Linked DNA regions of Homo sapiens. The protein of the gene in region 2 interacts with the protein of the main gene of each other region in a biochemical or structural test. Each region holds a gene or a part of one and is shown on either strand. Other genes may lie near its edges. The genes, in order: SNX19, NOTCH3, C1QL1 and PPIA.

Region 1 (6,019 bases), on a different chromosome or scaffold from region 2:
CTGCCAGCCGCACACTGGTGCCCGCCTGCTGCACCATCTATGAGATAATGTCTCTCCATTTTGGGATTGTGACATAGTTACATCAGACCTCAATGGCCAGTGCTTGCATTCCAGGCCTGAGATCAGTGTGACAGCAGAGAAACCTGAGCCGCGAGGGACATTCTCAGGCTCAAAAATCACAAACCCGACAGGGAAAGGAATTTGATCAGAAAACGACACCATTTAGGTTATTTTAATGCCTGGATCTGAGCTGCCCTTTAAGCAGAGCCCCTTCTGTCGCAGGACTTTATTACCAAGTGACCCCGGCAGATGACTTTCATTTGTTTTTAACTGTAGAACAAGGTCATGTTTGCTTCGGGCATACTACATGGAGTGGACTTTGGGTGACAGGGTAAGCCCTGGCTCAGGCCTGTTTTTCCATGCACGCAGCATGCAGGCTGACAGGGCAGAGGCCAGGTTCTGAGGCTTTGTAGCAGATGGCCTCCTGTGTGTGCAGGGAGAACTTCTTCCACTCTTGCACATACGACTCCTAAACCTTCTACCTTTACGGAGGCATATACTGTTGAATGCCACCTAGGCATTCTTTGATCATCTGAAACTTGCGACTAAGAGGTGGGAAGAGACAACTGTCAACCACTTAGAAGTGACCATTAGTTCCCCGAACAGTCAATCAATTTAGGAATCAAGAAACATTTGTGTATCTATTTACTAAGCATTTTTTATGTGCAGGAGAGAGTACAAACCAACATGCAACATAGTCTTCATTCTTAAAAAGTACATAGTAAAGGTATGAAAAACATTTGTATTCAGAGAATTCTAAGACAAATGGTCAAATATTCAAATGGCCTGGCACTAGTGGTAATTCCAGCAGACAAACAGCATGAGAAAAGGCCGGGAGACAGTAATAAATACGTGCCCATTGCAATGAGTTACCCAATCAAGCCCTTTTACCTCCTTAAGATGGCAGATTAGAAGACCCTCTTCCCCAGGAGAGTGGGAGCGTCTGCCTTCGGGCTGTCAGTAATATTAAATAAGAGTGCTTGATTTATAAATTTTAAAAACATAAGAAGGTTTGACATTCTGCCCAGAGCAACGGAGGGCAGCGTGGTTTACCAGCGAAAGGACTGAACAGAGTGCCAGGAGCCCTTAGCTCTAGACTTACTGAACAGAAAGACCTTGGGTGAACTTTTCATTGAAACACTGAAGGCTTTAGGTTCATACCTGTATACGAAGGATAGTCCTGGTGTGGGGCAGCAGAAATGCCACTGAGCTAGAAGCTGGAAGACCCAGGTCCTGGCTTTGCTAATAATAATGACATTTATTATGCACTGTGTGCTAGAGGTTGTTCTTAAACGTATGAGCTCATTTAGCTCCCGTGCCCACCCAATCTCTGTGAGGAAAGCTCTATTCTTATGAGCATTTAATGGACAAGGAAACTAAGCCACAGAGGTGTGAAATCCCTTTCCTAAGGCCAGACAGCTAACTACTGACAGAGCTGGAATTCTGCCTGGTTGGTTGTCGGCATAACCCATGTTCTTAATCCCCGTGCTGCTGCCTCCCAATAAACTGGGTGAGTGATCCTGGGCAAAAGACAAGCTCTCTGCATTTCAGTTTCCTCTTCAGTAAAATGAGGACATGAGTATTAATAACTTGCCAAATTACCTTAAACAGTGATTGTCAAGATCTAAATAAGACATTGGATATGAAATACTTTGTGATATAGAAAGTCCTATACATGTGTGAAGTCTTTTCCTCAGAGGAATGATGAAAAGATGAAATGAGATGGCTGATGGGAAACGCTCTGGGACATGAACATAAAAGTGCAACCTAGATGATCAGTGCCACCACCATCCTGGGAAAAGCTAACTGGCGGTGAGCAGGCTCTTGGACTCCATGAAAATTTAAGGATGTGGCTTCTTTTTCATATCTGTATGGTATCTTTACTCAACTTGATTTTGGCAGGTTTAAAGAGGAAAAATGAAGGATAGGAAGTTTTTATCCTAGAAGCCTAGAGAAAGTGAAGTATATTCCTTTCAAGAAGAGAATCCCCGGGTTTCTTTCCTTTCTTCCTTCCTTAAATTGAGACCCAAATGAGGTGGAAGAAAATCTCTACTGAGATGAGATGCATTTTTAGGACAAACATGGAGACCATCATCGTTGTTCCGGAATCTGGCCATGTGCTAAGAGACAGCTTCTGCTCCCTATCTGATATTACCAAGCTGGACAGCATCTTTTCTATGATCCAGTTCAACTTCTTTGTATGGAAGAAACTGAGGTCCAGGGAAGTGAAGAGATCGGTCCAAGATCACTGGAACCCATGACTACAAGGCAGCTCTTGCGATGCCAGGCAAATGTGTGTTCCTCCCCATTTCACTGCCTTTCCTTTGGGTGGCTTTGGGGGGAGTGAAATTTTTATGAGAACCCACATCATAATCCTGTGACAATGCCAAAGAACGAAATGATTTTTTAAAAAATCTCTTCTCTGAAATGGCTTCTCTGCCTTCATATTGCCTGAAGAGTTAAACAGACACAATCTGGATGAGTCTCAAAGATAGTAAGAATCACCTGTTTTCTCGTGGTAAGAAGGTGCTTCCAGAAGGCTGATTTTTCACTTCTCATGCCTTCCCTTTTCACACACTGGGGGCAGACACTCTCTCCTACTGACAGGAAGAGAATTAGCCTCCTTTGGTGTTACTGCTCCTTCCCACTTTAGCTCAGCATTATACACACAAAACGGGTGGGTGCGGAGCCCTTTCACCAGGAACTGGGTTGCAAAGTCTGTTAGTGGAAAAAAAAGCAACACCCTTCTTGAGCCCGTAATTTATCAGATTTTTTTTCCTGTGGCGATACAGAGGCCCCTTCACCCCAGCAACCAAGAGGCTACAGCTGGATATGTGCTTATGAGATGGGTCATAGTTAAGAGCTGCCAGCCTGGGGTCTGTTTCTGGGACATTTCCACCTTAGATTAGACAGGCATTGGAGTCAGGAGCTAGCTGGTTACTGTAGCAACAGGCCTTCAAAGCTTCACATTTCAAATGGAAGCTGCTACGCTATGAAACTTGCTCAGGACACCCTTTTTCTCAGTTTGAGGTTAAGTACTCCTCCGCCCCCAACCCCCCGACCACACCCCATGCCCAGTATACTCTTAGAGCAGAGAGGAGGTCTGGAGGAGACAAGGGCCTAAGGCTTCACCCTTGCTCACTTGGAACTAGGCATTCTTGCTGTCATCTGGTTTAGTCAAGGGGGTTGTGAGGCGTGTGGGCTCCATTGTGAGTGTAGGAAAGATGGAAAGAAAATTGCCAGATGGGGATGAGGATTCCAAGCCTATCAGGAGGAAAGAAATATGTTACTCACTGCCACAAGAAGGTTGCCAACGTCATTTATGGATCAGCAACTGCTTGTAGGCAAAGTCTGTTACATGCCTGTCACTGGGCTATGCACCCGAGGATGGAGGCACTAGCTGAGGCTTACGAGTTAGAATAGATAAGGTGAAAATTGTCTGCCATGGTATATGCTGGAAAAACTCTGGGAAACAAGACAATCTGCCTCCAAGGGATTAACAGCCCAGTAGGGAAGACAGACCAACAGGCAAACCCTAAGGGCGGGTTAGAAAGAAGCTTGACTAGTGTAGGTGCTTCAAAATGAAGACAGCTGTGTATGTCTCAGTCAAGCTGTGCGGGTCCAGCCAATTTAAGATAAACTCTGTTTAATTACATTTTACGTTTTAAAAGGAAACTTCTTCATTACATTGCCTATCAGTGCAGTTAAGTAAAAAGGCACATGGAACTATATGAACAGATGCCATTAACAGGTTTTTGCTTTTACATGTCATCTTTCCCATTTGAGCATTAATTACTCAGTATTTTCTCATCAGTTTTCAGAAAGTTTTTCGAGGATAAACTTGTAGAGGGATTTGGGGAGAGGAAGCTTTATTGGGATCTCTAGGGGCTATTTTATATTTTCCAATGTCTGAACTGTTTTTACAACAGATTTTCCACAGAAAGCTCAACAAGTCACTAAACTTTCTGAGTCTCAGAATCTGGGACTTAAAATCAGGGGAAGAGATGTGAATGGCTAAACTTTCTAGTTGTGTGAATAGTTTGCAACATATAAAGAATTGGTCAAAATGTTTATTCTTAGGGTCGGTAGTTATTCTGACTTCACAGAAGGGAATATCTGGCCAACTTTCCTCACAGAATATCAATTGTGGAATCAAGTATAGGGAATATCATGCATTTAAGGTTCACATATAGCCTTAAGTTGATGTCCATATTGATTTAACTATCAAAAAGGCAATTAGATTAGTGGGGTAGCCAAGTCACCCACAAAGACTGATGAGCTGATATAGAAAAAAAAAAAGGAATAAAGAAAAAGCAATTGTGAAGTTCCATAAGAATAGGAGAAATGACAGATATGAAGAGTTTTTTGAAGAAAGTTTCTTCTCTGTTGCTATTTAGTTTTAACAAAGGAGTTTCAGAAATGAACATAGAGAAGCAATTGGGTGAGGCTCCCTGCTAGATGAAGAAAACTTCTATCACTTGGGAAAAATCCACAGAAATCCTAATCCTATTAAAAACTTAGGTCATTCCACCCCAACAGTACTCTTTCTTCCATGTCCAAAACCATACGTGGAGCTTGCTTGTGTTTCAATACAAGCTCTTGCCTCAGTCCTCTCCAGATTGCTAAAAGGAGGTGTATAACCCTGCTCTTCAGCAGAAAGACCGCAGGTATTCCCGCCGCATCCACATATGCACACTTACTTCCCTTGGATGTGTGGCAACGAGCTCTGCTGCTGCAAGTGTTATATGCCATCCGCAAACCCACATGGGTGCAGGGTGCACACCTGAACAGGGGGTAGCCTCTGATGAAACATTTGAGTAATGGATTTCTTTACCTCACCTAAACAGATCCACTGAAAAGGAAACTTTTTGGGTTCCCACCCACACGCAAGATGTACAAAGCTGTCTGGGGCAGGTCTGGTACAGACTAGCCAGTGCCCTCCACTGGAATAAGTGGTTAATCTCAAAGAGGTTTACGGTGGTTTCTCCACATATCTTCACCCTTCAAGCCTTTCCATAAAAGTCACCAGCACCCTGTCTCTGGGATGTGGAAGGTTGGGAGAAAGGAATCAACAAAATGAAAGTAACAGTATCAAGATCCAGACTTATTCACAAATTTTGCCTCTTAAATAAACATAATCTTTAATTAAGTAAACTTTAATATTTATTTTGTACCTATCATGCACTAGGTATATACATATAGTTGGGGGGGGGGCATAAGGACATAATAGGACTAAAAAAGATAAAAGATATGTTCGTTGCCCTTGAAGAATTATAGTCTCTTACTGAGGACTTCATATACATGCACATTGACTAGAGAGGCAGTGTAAATAACTGAAAAGAAAGTGGGAAGAGTTTTGGCTGGTGCAATCAGACAGTGCTTCTTGAAAATGGAACTTGAATTGGTCCTTATGGGCAGAGGTAGCCTACTTGCCCAGCTGGAGAAGAGAAGGTAATCTACCACGTGGAAGGAAGGACATGAACAAAAAAATGAAAGCAGGAAGGAACATGCTGGTTTGGGCAGAATAAAAAATCCCTAGATTTTTTTGGAAGTTTCTCGTCTAACCTCCTGCCTAAACCATCTATAATACATTCTGTCCCCAAGAAAATGCTCTACTGCCAACTAAGCCCATGTGATTCTCCTAGAGATGCATGAGTCCTTAATGAAAGCTGCCCTCACTATTCTTGAAAAAGCCACTTGCATTTATAGATAACAGAGGGTAAACTTTAAACACAACTGCATAAAGTGGCAAGGAACTGGCCTGCCGTCAGCTCACTGAATTTGGATTCCATGCAAGCAGGATGTGTAAAGGAGGTAAACTCCAAAAGTGTTTTTCCTCCCTTAATAAGGTCTATTCTTCTTGGTGTCAAGGTATGAAAAGCAGTATTTCATATCAACGTTCATGGTTAATCTTTTTGATAGTTACAGGAGCAGGATGATTCTTCACCCAGGGGCACGG
Region 2 (7,289 bases):
GACCCTGTCTTAAAAAAAAAAAAAAAAAAAAAAAAAAGGAGCCAGGTGCGGTGGCTCACACCTGTAATCCCAGCACTTTGGGAGGCCAAGGCGGGCGGATCACAAGGTCAGGAGTTCGTGAGCAGCCTGGCCAATATGGTGAAACCCTGTCTCTACTAAAAATACAAAAAAAAAGCCAGGCGTGGTGGCAGGTACCTGTAGTCCCAGCTACTCGGAAGGCTGAGGCAGGAGAATCGCTTGAACCCGGGAGGCGGAGGTTGCAGTGAGCCAAGATGGAGCCATTGCACTCCAGTCTGGGCAAGAGAGCGAGACTCCGTCTTAAAAAAAAAAAAAAAAAAAAAAAGGAATTCGGCTGGGCACGGTGGCTCACACCTGTAATCCCAGCTACTCCAGAGGCTGAGGCAGGAGTACTGCTTAAACCCGGGAGGCAGAGGTTGCAGTGAGCCGAGATCGCGCCACTGCACTCTAGCCTGGGCCACAGAGCAAGACTCCATCTCGGGAAAAAAAAAAAAAAGTAATTATTGGATGGAGAAAAGGGCAGACAAACGGGGCAGAGAAGTGCATAGGCAGATAGAAACAAGAACAAGATAGACAGAGCACATGGATGAACAGACACACGGACAGACACGTGGGACACACCGATGGGCAGATAGAGTGCACAGAGAAACAGACGGGGCAAGTGGATGGGCAGGTGGAAAGAGAGGCAGGGCCCACGGACAAACAGACTGGGATGGATGCATAGACAGACGGATCGATCGGGTGGATGGGCTCACTTGCAAGTGCGCTCGCGGCCACCGGCGTGGCAGTCGAAGTTGTCGTAGAGGCAGGCGGGCGAGCTGCAGGCGGGGTCGCAGCGGCTGTTGTTGAAGAGGCGCCAGCACTGCAGCGCCTCGCATTGCCGCCAGGGGTCGCCCACGCTCAGCGAGCAGTCGCCGCCGTCCCAGCCGCAGCCTGGGCTGTTGCACTCGCGGTCGCAGCGCTGGTCCCCGCGCTTGGCCTGGCAGGCGGCGCGCGGGCACCGCGGCTCCTCCGAGACCTCGGGTGCCGCGGCGGGCGCCTCGCAGCGCGGCCCGGTCCAGCCCTGCGCGCAAGCGCAGCGGAAGAAGGGCGCGAGCGGCGCGGGGCGGCAGGAGCCCCCGTGGAGACAGGGGGCGGCCGCGCAGCTGGCGTTGCTGGCCCCCGGCGGCGACCCCGGGAAGCTGCGGCAGGAGGGTCCCGACAACCCTGGGGGGCAGGCGCAGCGCGGCCCGCGGGGCGTCTGCTGGCATGGGACGCCCACCGGGCACTGCAGCTCCCGGCAGGAGCGCGCCACCCGCTCGCAACGCGGACCCCAGAACGGCTGGGGGTCGGGTTTGGGGAGGGAGGGATAAAAATGAGGGTGGGGAGTGGAGGGAAGGAGGAGAAGAAATGGAGGAGTGGGGAAAAGAAGAGTCAAGGGGAGAGAGGGGGAAGAGAAGAGGTCAAGACTAAGGAAGGTTGAGACCCCCTCAACCTCCCCATGTCCCACCCAACCGCTCCCCTTTCCACACTGGAGACCCCACCTGGCAGATAAGCCCTGCCATCCCAGGAGGCCACGCCCCCCAATCACCATCCTCACCCTTTTCCCTTCAAACCTCCAGGAAATGTCGGGGCAGGGGGTTGTTTCTTTGTTTTTTGAGACGGAGTGTCACTCAGTCGCCAGGCTGGAGTGCAATGGCGTGATGGCTCACTGCAACCTCCGCCTCCCGGGTTCAAGTGATTCTCCTGCCTCAGCCTCCCGAGTAGCTGGGATTACAGGCAGCTGCCACTACGCCCGGCTAATTTTTATATTTTTAGTAGAGACGGGGTTTCACCATGTTGCCCAGGCTGGTCTCTAACTCCTGGCCTCAAGTGATCCTCCCGCCTCGGCCTCCCAATGTGCTGGGATTACAGGTGTGAGCTACCACACCCGGCGGAAATGTCAGCATTTTCCAGAAACTCCCTTCCCTTCGATGTCTCCCCTAAAGCCACATCCTCCTCCTAGACGCCACGCCCCTACTACTCCAGAGGCCACGCCCCTACTCCTCCTCCAAAGGCCGCCACCCACACCTACCTGGGCACAGTGACAGGTGAAGGTCAGCCCACCCCCAGGACCCGGGCTAGGACGGCACTGGCCTCCATGCTGGCATGGCTGGGACTCGCAGGGAGACAGGACAGTCTGACAGCGAGGACCTGAGCGAGCGGGAGCATGTAGATCAGCCACAATGGGGGAATGACAGGCGGGGTCCCAGGCCAGCCCCTTCGCCAACGCTTACCTGAGAAGCCAGCATGACAAAGGCAACGGAAACCTCCGCCTGGGTCCTGCAGGCAGTCCCGGGTGTGTGCCGCGTGGCAGGCACCTGAGCGACACTCATTGATGTCTGCCTCGCAGCGCAAACCAGTGTATCCTGGGGGACAGGTGCAGCGGAAACCACCCACCAGGTCCACGCAGGTGCCATTGTGTAGGCACCGGGGCCCTGAGTCCAGCGGTGGGCCTGGGCCGCAGTCATCCTCATTAATCTCGCAGAGCACCCCTGGGGGAAGAAACGAGGGGTGGTCAAGAGGGAATGAAGACAGCCTCTCATCCTGTCCCCCCAACCCTGGCCCTGGCATACCCAGCGTTCCTGGGGGACAGGAGCAGAGATAGCGGGCCACGAGGTCAATGCATGAACCCCCGTGCTGGCAGGGCTGGGAGGCACACTCGTCCACGTCGTCCTCACAGTTATCACCATTGTAGCCAGGAAGACACTTCAGTGGGGTAAGAGAGGGACCCACTCAGCTTAGTGGGACACAGACCCACCTGGACATACCCATGAAGACGCAAAGAACCCCAGCACAAAAGGACACACACAGATGTTCAGCGCACTACCAGTAGGTAATCCCAGCACTTTGGGAGGCCGAGGTGGGCAGATCACCTGAGATCAGGAGTTCGAGACCAGCCTGGCCAACATGGTGAAACCCTGTCACTATGAAAAATACAAAAATTAGCTGGGCGTGGTGGTGGGTGCCTGTACTCCCAGCTATAATGAGAGGCTGAAGCAGAAGAATCACCTGAACCCAGGAGGCAAAGGTTGCAGTGAGCTGAGATCGCGCCACTGCACTCGTCTGGGTGACAGAGTGAGAACCTGTCTCAAAAAAACAAACAAATAAAAAAACACCCCAGATCTACCCAGAGTGACACCCACAGATACACCAAGAGTCACAAAAGCAAAAACTCAGACATATCTAGAGACATACCCATACCAAGCCACACAGAAATGTGTGCCCAGACGCACCCAAGCATGCCCACCTCCTCTTCCCTCTCCTGGGGAGCGCCCCCTTACCTCACACATGTAGCCCCCCATATAGCCACGGCAGGTCCCCCCATGCTGGCAGGGCTGGGCCAAGCAGGGGTCCACCTCCTGCTCACAGTGGCTACCAGTACGGCCCTCTGGGCACACGCAGTAGTGGGAGCTGTCTTCATCCACACACTGCCCACCCGCCTGACACAGCTGCTCCAGCCGCACCCCTGCAAAGAGGAGAGTGGCACAGGAACAGAGGTAACCCCATACATCCCCCTTCTGCCTCCATCACACAGATCATTCAACATCCTTGGTGGAATGAGTCCCCAGGATCGCACCCACACTCCATCAGGTTGTCACACATCCCCCCAGCAGGCAAGGTCTCATCACTGACATACACACACATGCCTTCAACGCTCACAGCAGCTCGGTCACACCCTGTAGCACACACACCATCCCTGCTGTCTCACAGTGACAGACACACACCATCCCGGCCAGTTGTCACATGCTCACACACCCACACCACTCAGCCACACACCCCATCATGCCCCATAGGCTCTGTGGCACCCCCATTCGGCTCACACTAGCAGGAGGTACGTGCATGAGCCCCTTCCCAAGGCCCCACACGCCCGCCCACATGCTCCCACTCACCGATCTGGGCTGCGGCCTCCCTGCAGGGCAAGCTTCGGATGTCACAGAGGCGTCCGCTCCATCCAGGGGGACAAAGGCAATAGGCCCCAGTCTGGACGCAGCGACCCCCGTTTTGACAAGGCTGGCGGCTGCACCAATCCACCAGCGTCTGGAGGGGAAGCACTCAGAGTCAGTACTGTGGGGTGGGGGGTAGTCTGGGAGAAACTGTGCCCCGACTTGGCTTCTCCCTCCTAGGATCCCAGGCAGGCTCCTCCCCCAGGTCCCCAGTAACTCCACCCACCTGGCACTGCGGGCCCGTGAAGCTCTCGAGGCAGGTGCAGCGGAAGCCAGGGTGGGCGGCGCTGCAGACGCCCCCGTGTAGGCAGGGCCGCGAGAGGCAGGGGTCTGCCTCATGTTGGCAGTGGGCTCCTGTGTAGCCGGGACGGCACAGGCAGCTGAACGAGTTCACGCCGTCCACACAGGTCCCGCCATTGAAGCAGGAGCTGGAGCGGAAGGAGTGGGAGGGAGGATCAGGCTCCGCCCCCTCACAGGCCCTGCCCTCCTTCCTGAGTCCCGCTGTTAGCGCTGGGGACGTCCCACTCCCTGACCCTTATCTCGGCAAGAAGCTGCAGCCCCAGCAGAAGCCAATCAGGTCCCTTAGCTCCAATTCACCAGGGACTTCAGCCCTAAGGTGAGAGCCACCTGGAAGCCATGCCCTCTCAGGCACCAGAGACTCCAAGGTGAGCTCCAAACAGACGCCCTGCTCCTTCCCTGGCCCTGCCCCATCAGTCATCAGAGTCCGCAGTGGGTACCAAGCTGAGGACTCCCCCAAGTCGTTGCTGTCCCCACTTCGTCCCAGGTCCCAGGCCCCATCCCAAGCCAGAGTCCCTGCTCTCCAAGCAGAGGCCCCGCCCACCTGGGGCTGCAGTCGGGCAGGTCCTGTTCGCAGTGGAAGCCTCCGTAGCCTGGCGGGCAGGTGCAGGTGAAGGAGGCCACGTGGTCGGTACAGGTGCCCGGGCCGCAGGGGTTGCTCAGGCACTCATCCACATCGCGGGCGCATCGTGGGCCGGCGAAACCAGGGAGGCAGGAGCAGGAAAAGGAGCCCACGCCGTCTTGGCACGAGCCACCGTTCAGGCATGGGTCTGCGGACAGGAGGAAGGCGGTCTGGTCACCTACCTTGCCCCCATTAGCCCAGTCTGACTGGGATATGCCTTGGATTGAGAAGAATTCAGGAGGAAACCAGGTTCAACTGGGATGGGGTGCATTTGGTCAGAGGAATCTAAATCCATCCCCTTCTGTGGCCTCGTCCCCTCCTTTATCTGGAAACCTCACCTATGTGGCAAGGGCAGGATGTTGGGAAAACCAAAAGGTCCCTTTAAGCTGCCAAGCAAACGCTGCTAATTGTGCCTGATCTAATTCCTGTGCTTGGAACAGGACAAGGACAGTGGCCATTAGCCACATGTGGCTACTGAGTCCTTGAAATTGTGACTAAATGGAGATGTGCTATAAATGTAAAATACATACTGGGTTTCAGATTTTGAAGACTTGGTATGAAAAAAAAAATAGGCTGGGCGTGGTGGCACACACTTGTAATCCCAGCACTTTGGGAGGCCGAGGTGGGCAGATCACTTGAGCTCAGGAGTTCGAGACCAACCTGGGCAACATGGCAAGACCCCATTTCTATAAAAAATACAAAAATTAGCTGGGCATGATGGTGCACACCTGTAGTCCCAGCTAGTGGGGAGGCTGAGACGGGAGGATCACTTGAGCCTGGGAGGTCAAGGCTGCAGTGAGTCATGATCGCACCACTGCACTCCAGTCTGGGCGACAGAGTGAGAACTTGTCTCAAAAAAAAAAAAGGAAACAATGTAAAATATCTCATTAACAATTTTATACTGGTTACATGTTGAAATGATATGTTAATATATTGGGTTAAATAGATTATATACATTTATTTATTTATTTATTTATTTACTTTTATTTTTATTTTTATTTTTTTTGAGATGGGGTTTCGCTCTTGTTGCCCAGGCTGGAGTGCAATGGCACGATCTCAGCTCACCACAACCTCCGCCTCCCGGGTTCAAGTGATTCTCCTACCTCAGCCTCCTGAGTAGCTGAGATTACAGGCATGTGCCACCACGCCCAGCTAATTTTGTGTTTTTAGTAGAGACGGGGCTTCTCCATGTTGGTCAGGCTGGTCTCAAACTTCTGACCTCAGGTGATCCACCTGCCTCAGCCTCCCAAAGTGCTGGGATTACCGGTGTGAGCCACTGCGCCCAGCCGATTATATACATTCAATAAATTAAATTTAAATATATTAAATTTGGTCAGGCACAGTGGCAGCAGTCTGAGAGTCCAAGGCAGGAGGATGGCTTGAGGCCAGGAGTTTGAGACCAGCCTAGACAACGCAGTGAGACCCCATCTCTACAGAATTAAAATAAAAATATTAGCTAGGCATGTAGTGAGTGCCTGTAATCCTAGCTACTCAGGAGGTTAAGACAGGAGGAATGCCTCAGCCCAGGAGTTCGAGACTGCACTGAGCCAAGATCGCACCACTGCACTCCAGCCTGGGCGACAGAGCCTCACTCTGAATACATAATAAATAAATAAATATAAAATATTAAATTTAATATCTCCCATTTCTGTTTATTTTTTAATGTGGCTACTAGAAAATTTAAAATTGCATATGTGGCTTGTGTTATTTATCTGTTTGGCAGCACCCCTTTTTGTTTGTTTGTTTGTTTGTTTGTTCGTTTTTGAGACGGAGTTATGCCTTGTTGCCCAGGCTGCAGTACAATGACACAATCTCAGCTCACCGTAATCTCCACCTCCAAGGTTCAAGTGATTCTCCTGCCTCAGCCTCCCAAGTAGCTGGGATTACAGGCATGCGCCACCATGCCCTGCTAATTTTGTATTTTTAGTAGAGATGGGGTTTCTCCATGTTGGCCAGGCTGGTCTCAAACTCCTGACCTCAGGTGATCCGCCCACCTTGGCCTCCCAAAGTGCTGAGATTACAGGTGTGAGCCACCTCGCCCGGCCTCTGGGGGGCCTTTTATCTCATACTTTGCACATGATATTAACTCGATTGCTCTCAAAGACAGTGCACTTAGGTCGGGTGTGGTTGCTCACGCCTGTAATCCCAGCACTTTGGGAGGTGGAGACAGGTAGATTGCTTGAGCCCAGGAATTGGAGACCACCGTGGGCAACATGGCGAAACTCCGTCTCTACAAAAAACACAAAATATTAGCTGGGCGCTGTGGTGTGCGCCTATAGTCGCAGCCACTGGGGAGGCTGAGGTGCTTGAGCCCAGAAGGCAGAGGTTGCAGTGAGCGATGATTGCAACACTGCACTCCAGCGACAGAGCTAAGACTCTGTCTCAAA
Region 3 (7,854 bases), on a different chromosome or scaffold from region 2:
CTGGGACTACAGGTGCCTGCCACCACGCCCAGCTAATTTTTTGTATTTTTAGTAGAGATGGGGTTTCACCGTGTTAGCCAGGATGGTCTTGATCTCCTGACCTCATGATCCACTTGCCTCGGCCTCCCAAAGTGCTGGGATTACAGGCGTGAGCCACCGTGCCTGGCCTAATGTTTGTATTTTTAATAGAGATGGTGTTTCGCTGTGTTGGCCAGGATGATCTCAAACCCCTGACCTCAGTTGATCCATCTGCCTCAGCCTCCCAAAGTGCTGGGATTACAGACGTGAGCCACCAGGCCCAGCCTCTCCTGTTTTTCTTTTGAGGGGGCTGGTCTGAATAACTATTAAAGTGCTGGGCCTTTGAAACCCCTAGTTAAAGCCACCTCCTTTTTTCCTACTAGCCTGTGGTCCCATCTCCAGTGAGCACCCCTTCATCAGACTCTGTCAACACCCTGCCCCTGCTGGAGGGAAAAGGAGCTTTTGAGATGGTTTTACCTCCCAGTGACTGAAGCAAGTTCCCCATTCTAAGCACATAGCATCTCCGGGGCCTCTTGTTGCCTCATCTCTGGGGACCTGCTGGGACTTCCTGAGGTGGTGCAGGGTCTAGGGCCAACCTGTGGCCCAATGACTGCCTCCCTATCCAGGCAAGCTGCCAATCCCCTGAAACCTCAGCTCTGTGTCAGCCCAAACTTCTTTGGGAAAGGAAGACATTCCATTGATGAAGGTGACATTGCTGCATCCCTTATTGGTGATTAATAGGGGGAATCATGGGGCTGTCTGCAGAATGAGCCTTTGCTGGATACTGGGGCCTCCCATTTGGTCAGGAACCAAGGACAAAGAGGAGAGACACGGGGATGTCTGATAGACACACGTGGGAAAGAGAGACATACAAGGAATAGAGAAGAGTGGGGTTAGATCCGGGGAGGAGAGGCCAGAAACCCAGGGAGAGATGGAAAAGGCAGACACAGGAGAGAGATGGACAAGAAACAGCAAAATAGAAGAAAGAGGCAGGGGAGAGGCAGAAACCAGAGAAAAGGTGTTGGCGGGGCAGCAGCCAGGCAGAGGAAAGAGAAGAAGGGCTGACTTATAAGCACCTGGCAGGCTATCTGCTCACTTTCCCTGCCTGCCCCTGTCTCTGCCCCTAAGACTTGCAGACCCGCAGGCTGGCAGAGCCTCAGGGCAGTGCTGCTGTGGGAAGGGTTCCAACAAGGTCTTGTATCTTAATCGTGAGAGATTCCTTCTCAACTTCCACTAGCTCAGCTTTAGTTCTGACCAGTGGTCCCCTTCTTCGAAGAGAATGCTCAGCCTGACCACACCCCCAGGTCACAGGCCACCACGAGTGAGAGCACTGGGAAGGGAGGTGGTATCAAGAGAGCTGGCTAAAATTGTCACCCCAGGGCGGGGCTGGGTGGAGGCTGGTCCTGGGGTCGGCCATTCCAAGGAGAGCTACACGCACATGCGAGTCCCGGTACCAGAGTCCCCGACACACTCAGTGCTTTCCAGCTGCAGCGTCTGAGATGGGGACGGAGAATGGAGAGGACCCCACACACTCCAGAGTCAGGAGGGGCTGGAGCTGGGAGACCAAGAGGAGGGGGAGTTTCCATCTCTTCCACCACCCCCCACCCCCCACCCCCTCCCCGCCTCAGGAGGAAAAACTCCCCCGCCCCCCAGACTGCCTTCTTTTTGGGGAAGCTCTGCTACAGTGGGAAACAGCTCCCCAACTCCCGGATTTTGCAAAGGGTGTCAGATTCGCCCAATGGTCCCTTCTCCAGGGCAGGGGAGGCACTGCAGCCAGGGCTGTAAGCACCGGGCTCCCTTTGCCTTTGTGCCCCAAACATTTCCTGCAGCCAGCCTTCTCCGCTCGCGCCCATGGCCACGCGCCTAGGCGCCCGCGGGCGCGGATGCTGCTTCTCCCTGTTCCATACGCCAGAGCCCATCCTTGCCCTCCCCTTATCGCCCACTGCTGTCGGCCCGAATCCACTTCCCAAGGGGCAAGCCCCCAAGGGCAAGTCCGTGCACCTGGGAGCCCTGCGCTCTGACTAGTTGGGTTCATTTCCCGCATTTCCAGTAGCGTTCCAGACGGTGCCCAGCAGCGTCTGTCTTGGAGCGGGAACCCAGGAACTGAGGATCGGCGATGTCCGCTGGCTCCGACCATCCCCACACGTGATGACCAAGCGGGGCCGCTGTGGGGTGGGATCTCCACCTGCGTCCGCCTGGCGCCCCCGCCAACTCCGATCAGGTACCCATTTGCCCCGGGCTCCCTGGGTGCCCTGGGCCCAGCCCAGCCCCATGCCCCCGCCTGGCCCACCTGGCCATTCTTGCAGAGGTCTGCCCACATACTGGTGCCGTCGCCGCCGCGCATGAGGACATGGTAGGTGAAAAAGTAGGTGCCGGGAATGTTGCACGTAAACTTGCCGCTGGCCGCGTCGTAGTTGTTGCCTAGGTTGGTGACCACGTCGTCAAACTTGAGTACCTCGTAACCCTCGTGGGGGTTCTTGAGGCCGGCGTAGAAGGCCACGCGCGGCACCGTGGTGTAGGTGGCAGTGCTGATGGCGCCGCTGCCCCCCGCGCCCGGCAGCCCCGGAGGGCCCGGCTTGCCTGGCTCACCCTTCTCCCCCGGCGGCCCCACAGGGCCGGGAGGACCTGGGTCCCCGGGAGGCCCCGGAGGGCCGGGCTTGCCGGTGCGGCCCGGCTTCCCCTGGGGGCCCTGCACCAGCGTGGAAGGCGGGGGCGCGCCGCTCTGCTCGCTCAGGGCGTCGCCGCCGTCGGTCCGCGCGCCGGCGCCGGGGCCCCGCGCGGGGTAGGGGTCGCACACCATGCGGCAGGTGCCCAGCATCTCATAGTGGCCTTCCGGGCCGCCCGAGCTCACCAGCACGGGGATGAGCACCACCAGCACCAGCAGCATCACCACACCCGCGGCGGCCGCTAGCAGCGTCTTTCGGCCCGCGCGGAGCCTGGGGAGCGCCGGGCCGCCCGGCCGCGCCGTCGGGGCAATGGTGCCGGCGGGCAGGGGGCGCGGGCTAGGCGCCCGCGCTCAAGGACGGTCCGGCGGGGCTGCGGGCATGGGGCCGGGCCCGGGGCGCCGCGCTGCGCTGGCTGCGCTGCGGAGCCCAGCCGCCGGCTCCTGCCTCGCGCCTCCCTCCTGCTGCGCTGCCGGACTGAGCGCCGCGGCCGCCGCCTCCCGCCTCCCGCCTCCCGCCTGCAGCCTCCCGCCTGACTCCTCCCGCCTCCTTGAGCCGGGCCACCGCCCCCTCGGCCGGGCCCCGCCCCGCCAGCTCCGCGCGGCTCTGGGCTCTCTAGGGGTGGGGCTGCGGGCGGGGCCGGCGCCTAATTGGGCCGCGGGCGCCTCGAGGTGGGCGGGGCATAAGGGGGCGGGGCCGCGGAGACCCCGGGCGGGAGCAGGGAGAGGAAAGAAGAGACTGAGTACGCGGAGACCGAGATTCGGAAATGGGGTGGGGGCCGGGGTCCGAGAGACCCGAGAGGCGCTCCAAGGGAAGGGGAGAGTAGGGACCAAAATGCGAAAGGGAGAGAGGGCCACAGGGAGAGCTAGAGAGCTCCGAGGGGATCGGGAGAGGAGAGGCTTCGAGGGTCGGTCACCAGGAAAACAGAGGGACTGGGGTCGCGACGGGCCAAGACCCGCAGGGGGCGGAAGCGAGGGGATAGCGCCCAGGTCTGCAGGGGACAAAGAGCGATTGAGGGGAGGACGGAGCGGGGAGCTGGAAGGTAGGATGAGAAAGGGGGTTATGAAGCGAAGAAGAGGATACGGAGGGGACCATTTGGCACTCAGGCCTCGCAGACCACCCGTCTGGGAGATCCAGATATCGGATGAATGCCTGTCCGGGGGCCCAGCGGAGCCAGACGGCAGCCGCCTCCTCCTTTCTGGATCTGACTGTTCCGGGACCCGTCTCCCCCGAGGTGGGGCAGGAGCTTCCAACCCCTCCTCGCCTCTGCCCCTTCCTCACCGAACTGTGGCCAGGCTGCTTTTTCCTGGGCCCTTTTCTTCCATCTCCCTCTGCTCAATCCCTTTACTTCTGCCTCTAGACCAGGGAGAAAAGGGGATCCTAAAAAGGTGGGCACCCCCACGTTATTTCTCCATGCTGACAGATGCAAATACGTCCCTGAGGGGTAACCCCCTTTTCCAGCCTCCAGGATGAGGGGTGGATCTCATCCAGCCCCTCAGCTCCTCCTCCCTCACTCCCCAGCCTCCTCCGCCGCCCCCTAACTCTTCTCCCCATCAGGCTGTGGGAGGCTCTCCTCTTCCTCAAGTGCAGCAAAGTGTTTAGGTTGCATAAACCGAAACGTGTCTGCTTCCATCAAAATATTTGTCACATTATCTGAGGCCCAGGTCGGGCTGCTCCACCGCTCCTCCTTCGCCCTCCTTTATCCGGCCCACCGGGGAGGATTCAGCCATTCGGAGGCGACTGGCCGGCTGCTAAAGAATGACATCCCAGCCTCTCCTCTCCCGAGAGCTACCCCCCGCCGGCTCACACTCTCCCTGTTGACCCTTCACCATGGGCAAAATGATTCCCTGGCCTTCCCTACCCAAGGTTGAGGTCGCTCACCTCATCCAGGGCTGGGAGTAGAAGGACACAGGGACATCCAACGAGGGGGCTGTGAAAGAGGACCCTCCAAGCACTAATGGCTGAGGCCAGGTTGGAGTGACCCCACCACCACCAAGGAGGGAGCTAAAAAATTTTCAATAAGTAGCATTTATTCAGGGTTTACTCTGTGCTAGGCCCTGTGTTGAATGTTTTACATACATGATCACCCTTGATCTTCACATCAGTCCAAAGAAGTAAAATCCAAGATTATTTTAATTTTACAGATGGAGAACTGAGGCTCTGGGAAGTTAAGAGATTTGCTTAAAGTCACACAACTAATAAGTGGGAGAGCCGGGACTCAAACTCGTAGCCTGGCTCCAGGCTCTTCCAACCTCAGCGCGATAGAGTCTCTAGGTACCGTTTACTGCCCAAAGCCCAGGGGTAGGGGGCTCAGGGCAGCCAGACCTCCCTAGGCTCAGGAAGAGTAGTCTTCAGCGCTCGGCTGTCAGGCAATCCGGTCCCCGGTTCCCCACGGCGGTCTCCTCGGTGTGCCCCACCAAGAGCGACAGGGCTGGTGACCCGAGGGGCGCGTGCGCGGTCGTCAGCCTGGGATTTGCACGGACCCCCTTCTCCCTAGTACGCTCGCTCGGGGGCCCCTCCTCTGCTACGCCGCTGGGGCTCGCCCGCCACCCACAGCCCTCGCAGAGCCCTCCGGGCACACCGCGGCTGGCCGCCCGGGGCCAAGGATGGGGCGGGAGCGCCCACCCACCCCCGCGCCGGCCGGGGCATCCAAGAGGCGCGCTCGCAGCCACACGGCGCCCCGCCTCCCGCTCCGAAAAAGCTCCTGCTCCCCTGGCGCGGTGTGGCGTCTCCGTCAGCCCAGCCGGATTCTCCCCGCTTCGCTGGAGTGGAAAATAACGGCTTCAAACTTTGCAGAGAGGAGCTGGTGCCAGCACTTTAATTAACAGCCATCTTGGCCTGTGAGCTGGGGCCACCGGCTTGGCGCCTCCCCTGGGCTCGCCAAGCCCCGCCCTGGCTCCGCCCAGGCCCCCAAAGAAGCACCCCTTAACCACCTACCCGACCCTCCACCCCCATCCCCTGCTCTCAGCGCCCCTCTTTCCGGGAGATGAGGGCTTGGCTGATTGGGGAGAGAGTGCTGCCTTGAGGGGCATCTCCCAGCTTAACACCTGAAGACAGTCACAACCCCCCCATCCGCCATACTGCCCCCCAACATTGTTTAAAGCTGGACTGTTGAAGATTCTGAAATTAAAGACCTGAGTGCCAGCCGGGCGCGGTGGCTCACGTCTGTAATCCCAGCACTCTGGGAGGTTGAGGCCCGAGGATCGCTTGAGCTCAGGAGTTCCGAACAAGCCTGGGCAGCATAGGGAGATCCTGGCGTTGTGGCTTTTACCTGTAGTCCCAGCTACTCAGGAGGCTGAGGCGGGAGGATCGCTTGAGCCTGGGAGGTCGAGGCTGCAATAAGCTGAGATTGCGCCACTGCACTCCAGCCTGGGCGACAGAGCAAGACCCTGTCTCATTAAGAACAAAAACTAAAACGGCTTGCGTGCCAATCCTACCCGGTGATTTTAGGTAAATAGCCTACCCAGCAGCCCCTGGCATCCTTTGGTAAAAGGGTGGTTGTGAGGATTAAATGATGTATTACGTATGTAAAGTCCTGGGCTCAGTATCTGACCCTTATTATACACCTCGTAAATGGTAGCTAATATAACTATTTCACCTCAAGGCCAAGAAAGCCCTCTCAGGAGACCCCCGGGCCTTGGGTCTACTTGGTCCTGCCAGCTTCCTACCCATTGCTGTCCTTGACACTAGGAGAGGGGGACAATGGACCTAGGCTCCCAGGTTCAGAGATGGAACTGGATGAGTGAGGGAAGAACCCTGAAGTTCCGGCTTCCAGGCCTCTTCTTCAACCACCTGCTAAGAACAAGGACTCAGGTTTTCTTTTTTTTCTTTCTTTCTTTTTTTTTTTTTTGAGACTGAGTTTCGCCCTTGTTGCCCAGGCTGGAGTGCAACCGTGCGATCTCGGCTCACCCCAACTCCGCCTCCCAGGTTCCAGCCATTCTTCTGCCTCAGCCTCCCGAAGAGCTGAGATTACAGGCACGTGCCACCATGCCCAGCTAATTTTTGTATTTTTAGTACAGACATGGTTTCACCATGTTGGCCAGGCTGGTCTCAAACTCCTGAGCTCAGGTGATCTGCCTGCCTGGGCTTCCTGCTGGGATTACAGGCTTGAGCCAGCTTGCCCAGCCGGGGCCAGGACTCAGGTTTTCAGAAGCGAAAAGGGAGGGAGGGTTTCAAGGTAAGGAGGGCGGCTGCACTCTCTGTAGCTGGGATGCTGTCAGTGGGGGGCTGAAGGTCTAACTTTGCTTCCCGAACTTCTATGAGTGTGAGGGGTCACTCCCACAGCCCCCATCTGGAATGACCCTACCATAGGAACTCCTACAGTGAGGGGGTGGTGCCGACAGCCCCAGTCATTCCAGGCATTGAGGTAGATTGTGGAAGGTACAGGGAAGAGCGTAGGTAAGGCTTTTTACCCAGGCATGACTGGCACTGACTTTAGGAACTGAGTGACTGTTCTGTGGTATTTTGGGGTTCTTTGAATGAATGTGAGTGGGTGTGAATGTGTAAGAGGCTGTTGATGTTGCTGTGTGTCTGGGTTTGGGAGTGAGGAAGGGGGGTGCTGTGCCCTGACTCATCAGCTGCTGGATCTGCATTGAGTTGTTTTTACATTTACTGAAAACAGCTAGCTAGGTCCTGCCTGGGTGAAAACACCTAGCTAGGTGGTGATGGTGTGTCCCAAGATGAGTAGGACCGGAAGGCTGAGCGGTGCCCCTGAGGAGTTCACTGTTTGGTGGGGGACACGTGCAGAAAGATAGGATACTTTGCCACAATAATTACCATAGCTAACAGTTTTTGAGCACTTACAAAGTGCAAGATCCTGTTCTTTTTTTTTTTCTTAGATGGATTCTCTCTCTGTCGCCCAGGCTGGAGTGCCGTGGTGCGATCTCGGCTGACCGCAAGCTCTGCCTCCTGGGTTCACGCCATTCTCCTGCCTCGGCCTCCGGAGTAGCTGGGACTACAGGTGCCTGCCACTATGCCTGGCTAAGTTTTTTGTATTTTTAGTGGAAACAGGGTTTCACTATGTTAGCCAGGATGGTCTCGATCTCCTGACCTTGTGATCCACCCCCAATAGGCCTCCCAAAGTGCTAGGATTACAGGCATGAGCCACCGCGCCTGGCCAAGATCCTGTTCTTAAGCACTTTTATGGATTATCTCATTTACACTTAACCTATTA
Region 4 (7,719 bases), on a different chromosome or scaffold from region 2:
AGGACCCGTATGCTTTAGGATGAAGTTCTCATCTTCAAATTTCTCCCCATAGATGGACTTGCCACCAGTGCCATTATGGCGTGTGAAGTCACCACCCTGTCAACATATAGGAAAAATGTCACTTCTGACAACATAACCATGAAGTGTGCCAAATCTGCAAGGTTCAAACTTTAAACCCAAGTTCAAACTGAATAGAAGGGTTAAATAGAACCGAAATGGTAGAGTAACAGTTCAGATATGTGTATCCTGAAATATTCTGGCTCAATCCCAAATGAAGGGAGCAACCCAAATAAAATAAAATTCAGTAAATTTCGTACCTGACACATAAACCCTGGAATAATTCTGTGAAAGCAGGAACCCTTATAACCAAATCCTTTCTCTCCAGTGCTCAGAGCACGAAAATTTTCTGTTTAAAAAAAAATTAAACACATATATACATACATAAAAATATATATATACACACACACACACAAACTGTCACAATTGGAACATCTTTGTTAAACTTAGAAAATGGACCAACCTGCTGTCTTTGGGACCTTGTCTGCAAACAGCTGTAAGAGAAAATTACAGTTAATTAACATCTGCTTATTTTGTTGCTTAGTACCCATGTCTTTAGGGGCTTCTGAGTCATAAATTCATTTTCTCACTAGAATACTTCTTCAGTAATTACTTTAATTCCCAAGAACTGCTCCTGACAGCCATAAGGCCCTGCAGGCAGTTGGGTTAAGAAACATGAAACCCAAAGACATGCCAAAAATCCAATACTAGTCATAACTTAAATAGTGAGACTTCTAGAAAGTGTCTCAAACTTTTAGTACATCACACCTACTTCTGAAAAGATATATGGCTTCTTAAATGTCTATCACCACCCCCCAACTTGAGCTAGAACTTACAAGGCAAAATTCTAAGGAACAGCAAGCACTGCTGCACGATCAGGGGTAAACAGCTGTTCTTTTAGTCACTTGTAATGAAAATGCTACTACCTCCAATCTGTTAACATAGCTTTATGGATTAGATGAGCAGTCACTTCTTGGTATCCAGGCCCCTTACCTAGTAGTGGGGTAAAAAATAAAGATTGGTTTCTAGTATATCTGGTTTTGAACCTTTCTTGAATGTATAATACGTTATGGCTAGAGAGGTAGCTTAAATACCATAAACATTTACAAGCCCTTTCATAAAAACAGCTTGTTTAAAAGTAGCATTTTATAAGCTATTTCACAGATGTGACTGAATTAACTACTAGTATCCGTGTGCACTTCTCTTATAGCAATGTACTTTTTTTTTTTTGAGACAAGAGTCTCACTGTCACCAGGCTGGAGTGCAGTGGCACGATCTCGGCTCACTGCAGCCTCCGCCTCCGGGGTTCAAGCGATTCTCCTGCCTCAGCCTCTAGAGTAGCTGAGATTACAGGCAAGCGCCACCACGCCCAGCTAATTTTTGTATTTTTAATAGAGGTGGGGTTTCACCATGTTGGCCAGGACGGTCTCAATCTCCTGACTTCGTGATCCGCCCGCCTGGCCAACGTACTTATTTTTTAGTTTTTAGGTATTTGTACCTAGAATGTATGGTCTTTCTAAAACATCAGCTTTTCTCAGAGCTTTATAGTCGGTACGTTTAAGTTCCTATGGCTTCCCTTTCAGACTTTCGCTAAAGCCAAAGCCCTCATTGGCAGTTACCCCTCCATTCTCATCAAGACCTGCAAGTCCTTTCTCATTTCCCTGAAGCTCTTTGGGTAACCTGATGCCCAACATTAGGTCAGGCCAAGTTTCCACGAAAGCCCTTGTCACTTACCAGCTTTGACTACACTCATAGGTGGGGTGGGGTGTGGATTAACATGCAGTGTTTCAGTGCCTATGTGCCAGGCACTATGGACAGGGTAGGCAACAAGGAAATCGCTCTGTCCTCACGAAGACTGCATGAGGATCAATCTATTTTCGGAATAAGATCCCAAACTAGCCATTGGTGGCCTTTTGAGATGTGATTTAAAGGAATAAAACCACTAACATCCTATTTCGCTACTCCCTAAGGTCTATCCATGTTAACTGGAACGGAATCGTACTCAATATTTAACTTTGAAGACACGCGCCAAGTTTAGATACTATGCTATAATTACAACTGATCTTTAAGAACTCATTTAACGCTCTCAAAACTAATTAGGTAATCACTGGTAATCCACCTTGGTCGGAAGAGGCCTGCCTTGTGGCCAGTCGCAACTTGCTTGCTAGGCAGAGGGACAATCGGGAGGGGCTCAAGAGCGCCTCCCCCGCCAGCGCCGTCACTGCAGTGGAAGGCGGTCCTTGGGCACCAGCAAAGGCAAGGCCCATTTTCACATTTCCGCTTGGGGGTGGGGGACACGGAGGGACGTTTGGGGCACATGTATAAATATTCCTACTTTATCCAAATGGAAGATATTTCAAGTGGCAACCCGTCACATCCCAGCAAGTCTCCTTTTATAACATGGCCTCCCGGGATCTACAGGACCGAGCATGGACGGGCTCACACCGCGCCTCGATCCTTGAGAAAAACCCTCAAGCAAACAGCTTCCCAGCTCAGGATGTAAAGCACCCATGCCTGCCAGGGGACAGCTTCCCAGGAAGGCGGTCGCAAGCCCCCGCGAGCGTGCTTCTGGCTCCGGTCTGCGGCGCCCAGGCCAAGCTAGGGCGGAGCCCAACGACTCTCAAGGCGCGGACCTGAGCGCGGCCGCCGAGCACGTGCGTCGGACAGGACAGGGCGCGGCCACATGAGGCGGGCGGGCGGACGCGGGCCCCCTCCCCCAACGGCCTCGCAGCCGCCCCGCCTGCCTTTGTCCGCCGCCGTCCCGGCCTCCTCCCCGCGACTCGCGGACCTCCCAAAATGGCCCCTCGTCAGGAAATGGCGCCGCAGCCCGCCCGCGCTCGCCCCTCAAGCAGGGTCGCCCCGCGCCCGGGCCTTTGGGGCGCTACCACCCACCCCGACCCCGGCCCACTTTCTGGGCCCCATTCCCGCACGCCGCCGCCCGCCCGACCTCAAAGGAGACGCGGCCCAAGGGCTCGCCGTCGACGGCAATGTCGAAGAACACGGTGGGGTTGACCATGGCTAATAGTACACGGTTTTCCTCGGCGGTGGCGTCTGCAAAACGGCACGAGCCTGGCCTCCCGCCCCTTTTATACCACGTTCGGCCCCGCCCGCAACCCGGTCTCGCGCCTCCGTCCCGGCCAATCGGGTCTGCGACTTCGCCAGAGTGACAGTGCATCTGGCCTATAGACGGAAGCCGGCGCTGATGGGGACGACACATGAGGCGCGCGTGCGCGCTAACGCGCGGAGGCAGGTTCCCGCCTGCGGGCTCCGTCGCGGTGGCTGCGGCATGGGACTCGGGGCGGGGCGGCAGTACGGGACGCGGGGCACGGGGGAGGGTCAGTGCGGAACGGGGGTGGGCAGCATGGCGCGCGCACGCGGGAGACGGAAGCGCGGCGGCTCTTCGGCCGTTGTCAAGCGATGAGGCGCGTCTCCCCATTGCACAGAGGGGGCAACTGAGGCGAACGCAGGCCTCAAGGTCGCGCCGCCAGTCAAGGTCGACTGGGGTCCCGCGCCCGGACCCTACGCCTCCGCGAGCGGAAATGGGGATGGCGCGTCCCCGAGACCTAGGAGCAGCCTTGCGTCCGCATTCCGCGCGGGCAAACACCACGTCGCGTCCTACCAGGCAATGTCAGGAAGGAGGTTGCCTTTGAGCATCGCTGTTTTCTCTAACGAGGTGGGACAGGAGCAGTCTCCGGTTTTGAGAGATTATGAAATGCTTTCAAAATGCTCTACTTTCCGAAAATATCTTACACTCTGCTTGAATCTTCTTCAGGAGGAAGCCATTAAAACAGGAGCCTGGCCAGGCTCTTACCTGTGAAGATGCATTATGCACATTTTGCCCTCTTACTCTTTTTGAATCTCTGCTCCTGGTCTTTCCCTGCCCCCGCCCCGCCCAGCTCCTACCGCCCCCGCCTCGGGGCTGAATTGTGCTTTGATTTTTGGGTGAAAGATAAGTCACAATTTAAAAGCGAATTTCTTCAGGCAAAGACATTAATAATACTTTAATTAAAATGCACTTGTAGGCCAGGCGCGGTGGCTCATACCTGGCGCTTTAGGAGGCGCGGAGGCCAAGGCCGGGGAGGATCGCTTCATCTTAGGAGTTCGACACCGGCCACCAGCCTGGGCATCTTAGAGAGACGCCGTCTCTACAAAAAAATAAATAAAAATAAAAATTAGCTGGGCGTCGAGGCGCTCGCTACTCAGGAGGCTGGGCGGGGAGGATTGCTTGAGCCCGGAGGTCGAGGCTGTAGTGGGCGGTGATCGCATCACTGCATTCCAGCCGGGACGACAGAGTGTGACCCTCTCTCAAAAAATAGGCCGGGTGCGGTGGATCACGCCTGTAATTCCAGCACTTTGGGAGGCCGAGGCGGGAGGATCACCTGAGGTCAGGAGTTCAAGACCAGCCTGGACAACATGGTGAAACCCCATCTCTACGAAAAATACAAAATTAGCTGGGCATGGTGGTGCGCACCTGTAGTCCCAGCTACCCCCTCGGGAGGCTGAGGCAGGAGAATCGCTGGAACCCAGGAGGTGGAGGTTGCAGCGAGCAGAGATGGCGCCACTGCACTCCAGCCTGAGAGACAGAGACTCCGTCTCAAATAAATAAACAAAAATATAAAATAAAATGCACTTATGTGACTGGTGTTTTGTTAAGAAAACCTTACAAGGGAATTCATATATCCTGGGCTGTCACTTAAGTTGCAATATTAAGGATATTATTTAATGTTTCTTTTTGTTTTTTTGAGACAAGGTCTCACTCTCACCTAGGCTGGAAGTGCAGTGGTGTGTTATCGGCTCACTGCAACCTCCCCTTCCCGTGCTCGAGCAAGCGTCCCACCTTAGCCTCCCAAGTAGCTGGGACTACAGGCATGCACCCACACCCAGCTCATTTTGTGTGTGTGTGTTTTGTAAAGATGGGGTTTCGCCACATCGCCCAGGCTGGTCTCAAACTCCTGGACTCAAGCGATCCACCCGCCTCAGCCTCCCAAAAGTGCTGGGATTATAGGCGTGAGCTGCTGCACCTGGACGTTGTTTAATGTTTCTAAAACTCAGTTTCTTCATCTGCACAACCAGGATAGGGTTGTGGTGAGACAAAAATGATAATTCATCTGATAGATGAAGTACAGTTTCTGGCCTCTTGCCATTGTTAATAACCATGAGCCAACGTGTTAGGAATTTATTTATTTGAGATAGGGTCTCACTCTGTTGGTTAGTCTGGAGTGCAGTGGTGCAATCCTAGCTCACTGTAACCTCGAACTCTTGGACTGAAGCATTCCTCCCTCCTCAACCTCCCAAATGTCTGGGACTAAAGGCACAAGCCACTGTGCCAGCTAATTTAAATTTTTTTAACAGAAACTGGTTCTGGCTGTGTTATCAGGGCTGGTCTCAAACTCCAGGGCTTAAAGGATTCTCCCACCTTGGCCTCCCAAAGTTCTAGCATTACAGGTGAACCGCCATGCTCAGCCTGTGTTGGAAATTTAGACTATGTTGTTTTGTTCTCATCACCATCCCATTATCCCCATTTTACAGATGCGTAAAGTAAAGCTCTGGCTTCTTGTTCAGAGTAATCGCTTATGAGTGTTAGCAAAGCCAAACTGGAAACTGCTTTTTTCCCCCCCACTCCACATCACTTCTTGCTTTGTGATCTTAAGAAAGCCACTTGTCCTCATCTGACACTGAAAAAAAATGCCCAAGGCCTTCAGGCATAAATTCTTACCATTTCTCTCTCCATCCTAAAACGTAGAGCAGTTAGGAACTCCTCCAAAGAAGTAAATGAATGAGGCCGGGTGAGGTGGCTCATGCCTGTAATCCTAGCACTTTGGGAGGCAGAGGCGGGTGGATAATTTGAGGTCAGGAGTTCAAGACCAGCTTGGACAACATAGTGAAACCCTATCTCTACTAAAAATACAAAAATTAACTGGGCAGGGCTGGGCATGGTGGCTCACACTGTAATTGCAGCACTTCGGGAGGCCGAGGTAAGTGGGTCACTTGAGGCCAGGAGTTCAAGACTAGCCTGGCCAACACAGGGAAAACCCATCTCTACTAAAAAGTACAAAAATTAGGGCTGGGCACAGTGGCTCACGCCTGTAATCCCAGCACTTTGGGAGACTGAGGTGAGTGGATCATGAGGTCAGGAGTTCAAGACCAGCCTGACAAATATGGTGAAACCCCGTCTCTACTAAAAATACAAAAGTTAGCCGGGCATGGTGGTGCGCATCTGTAATCCCAGCTACTCAGGAAGCTGAGGCAGGAGAATCACTTAAGCTTGGGAGACGGAGGTTGCAGTGAGCTGAGATCACACCACTGCACTCCAGTCTGGGGGATGGGGTGAGATTCCATCTCAAAAAAAAAAAAGTAAATGAATGCATGAATGAATAATAAATAGGCTGGGCGTGGTGGCTCACGCCTGTAATGCCAGTGCTTTGGGAGGCCAAGGCAGGAGGATCGGTTGAGCCCAGGAGTTCAACACCAGCCTGGGCAACAGAGGGAAACCCTGCTTCTACAAAAAAATATGTATTTTCTTTTATTTTTTATTTTTATTTGTTTGAGACAGAGTTTCGCTCTTGACGGAGTGCAATGGCTTGATCTCGGCTCACTGCAACCTCCGCCTCCTGGGTTCAAGCAATTCTCCTGCCTCAGCCTTACAAGTAGCTGGGATTACAGGCATGCGCCATCACTCCCGGCTAATTTTGTATTTTTAGTAGAGATGGGGTTTCTCGTGTTGGTCAGGCTGGTCTTAAGCTCCCAACCTCAGGTGATCCACCCACTTCGGCCTCCCAAAGTGCTGGGATTACAGGTGTGAGCCACCATGCCCGGCCTATTTTATTTTTATTTATTTATTTATTTATTTATTTATTTATTTTTTGAGACAGAGTGAGTTTTACTCTTGAAGCCCAGGCTGGAGGTCAATGAATGGCGTGATCTTGGCTCACTGCAACCTCCACGTCCTGGCTTCAAGCAATTCTCCTGCCTCAGCCTCCCAAGTAGCTGGGATTACAGGCATGCACCACCATGCCCAGCTAATTTTATATTTTTAGTAGAGATGGGATTCATCATGTTGGTCAGGCTGGTCTCGAACTCCTGACCTCAGGTGATCCGCCTGCCTCAGCCTCCCAAAGTGCTGGGATTACAGGCATGAACCACTGTGCCCGGTCAAAACATTTTTAAAAATAAAAATTAGCCAAGCACGGTGGTGCATACCTATAGTCCCAGCTACTCGGGAGGCTGAGATGGGAGGATCACTTGAGCCCAGGAGGTTGAGGCTGCAGTGAGCCATGATGGTGCCACTACACTCCAGCCTGGGTAACAGAGCAAGACCCTGTCTCAAAAATAAAAATAAAAATAAAAATAAATACATCCGGCTGGGTACAGTGGCTCATACCTGTAATCCCAGAACTTTGGGAGGCCGAGGCAGGTGGATCACTTGAGGTCAGGAGTTCAAGACCAGCCTGGCCAACATGGCGAAACCCCGTCTCTACTAAAAATACAAATATTAGCCTGGTATGGTGGTGGGCTCCTGTAGTCCCAGCTGCTCAGGAGGCTAAGGCAGGGGAATCGCTTGAACCTGGGAGGTGGAGGTTGTAGTGAGCCAAGATCGAGCCACTGCACTCCAGCGTGGGTGACAGACTGAGACTTCGTCTCAAAACAAATAAATGAATACAT

Evidence for each region.
Region 1: the proteins of NOTCH3 (region 2) and SNX19 form a complex in vitro, tested with the Homo sapiens proteins (one study listed by BioGRID).
Region 3: the proteins of NOTCH3 (region 2) and C1QL1 form a complex in vitro, tested with the Homo sapiens proteins (one study listed by BioGRID).
Region 4: the proteins of NOTCH3 (region 2) and PPIA form a complex in vitro, tested with the Homo sapiens proteins (one study listed by BioGRID).

What each region holds. Positions count from the first base shown.
Region 1 is NC_000011.10:130,865,562-130,871,580, forward strand, and holds the end of SNX19 (sorting nexin-19), read right to left. Parts: 3' UTR 689-6,019; downstream 1-688. UniProt on the Homo sapiens protein: Plays a role in intracellular vesicle trafficking and exocytosis. May play a role in maintaining insulin-containing dense core vesicles in pancreatic beta-cells and in preventing their degradation. May play a role in insulin secretion.
Region 2 is NC_000019.10:15,176,752-15,184,040, forward strand, and holds part of NOTCH3 (neurogenic locus notch homolog protein 3 precursor), read right to left. Parts: intron 5,051-7,289; coding exon 4,825-5,050; intron 4,412-4,824; coding exon 4,210-4,411; intron 4,078-4,209; coding exon 3,930-4,077; intron 3,506-3,929; coding exon 3,321-3,505; intron 2,746-3,320; coding exon 2,613-2,745; intron 2,600-2,612; exon of another isoform or gene 2,532-2,599; coding exon 2,274-2,531; intron 2,191-2,273; coding exon 2,072-2,190; intron 1,340-2,071; coding exon 774-1,339; intron 1-773. UniProt on the Homo sapiens protein: Functions as a receptor for membrane-bound ligands Jagged1, Jagged2 and Delta1 to regulate cell-fate determination.
Region 3 is NC_000017.11:44,965,144-44,972,997, forward strand, and holds the start of C1QL1 (C1q-related factor precursor), read right to left. Parts: upstream 3,161-7,854; 5' UTR 2,906-3,160; coding exon 2,309-2,905; intron 1-2,308. UniProt on the Homo sapiens protein: May regulate the number of excitatory synapses that are formed on hippocampus neurons. Has no effect on inhibitory synapses.
Region 4 is NC_000007.14:44,792,079-44,799,797, reverse strand, and holds the start of PPIA (peptidyl-prolyl cis-trans isomerase A), read right to left. Parts: upstream 3,118-7,719; 5' UTR 3,074-3,117; coding exon 3,005-3,073; intron 2,680-3,004; exon of another isoform or gene 2,177-2,679; intron 1,051-2,176; exon of another isoform or gene 894-1,050; intron 552-893; coding exon 521-551; intron 407-520; coding exon 318-406; intron 97-317; coding exon 1-96. UniProt on the Homo sapiens protein: Catalyzes the cis-trans isomerization of proline imidic peptide bonds in oligopeptides.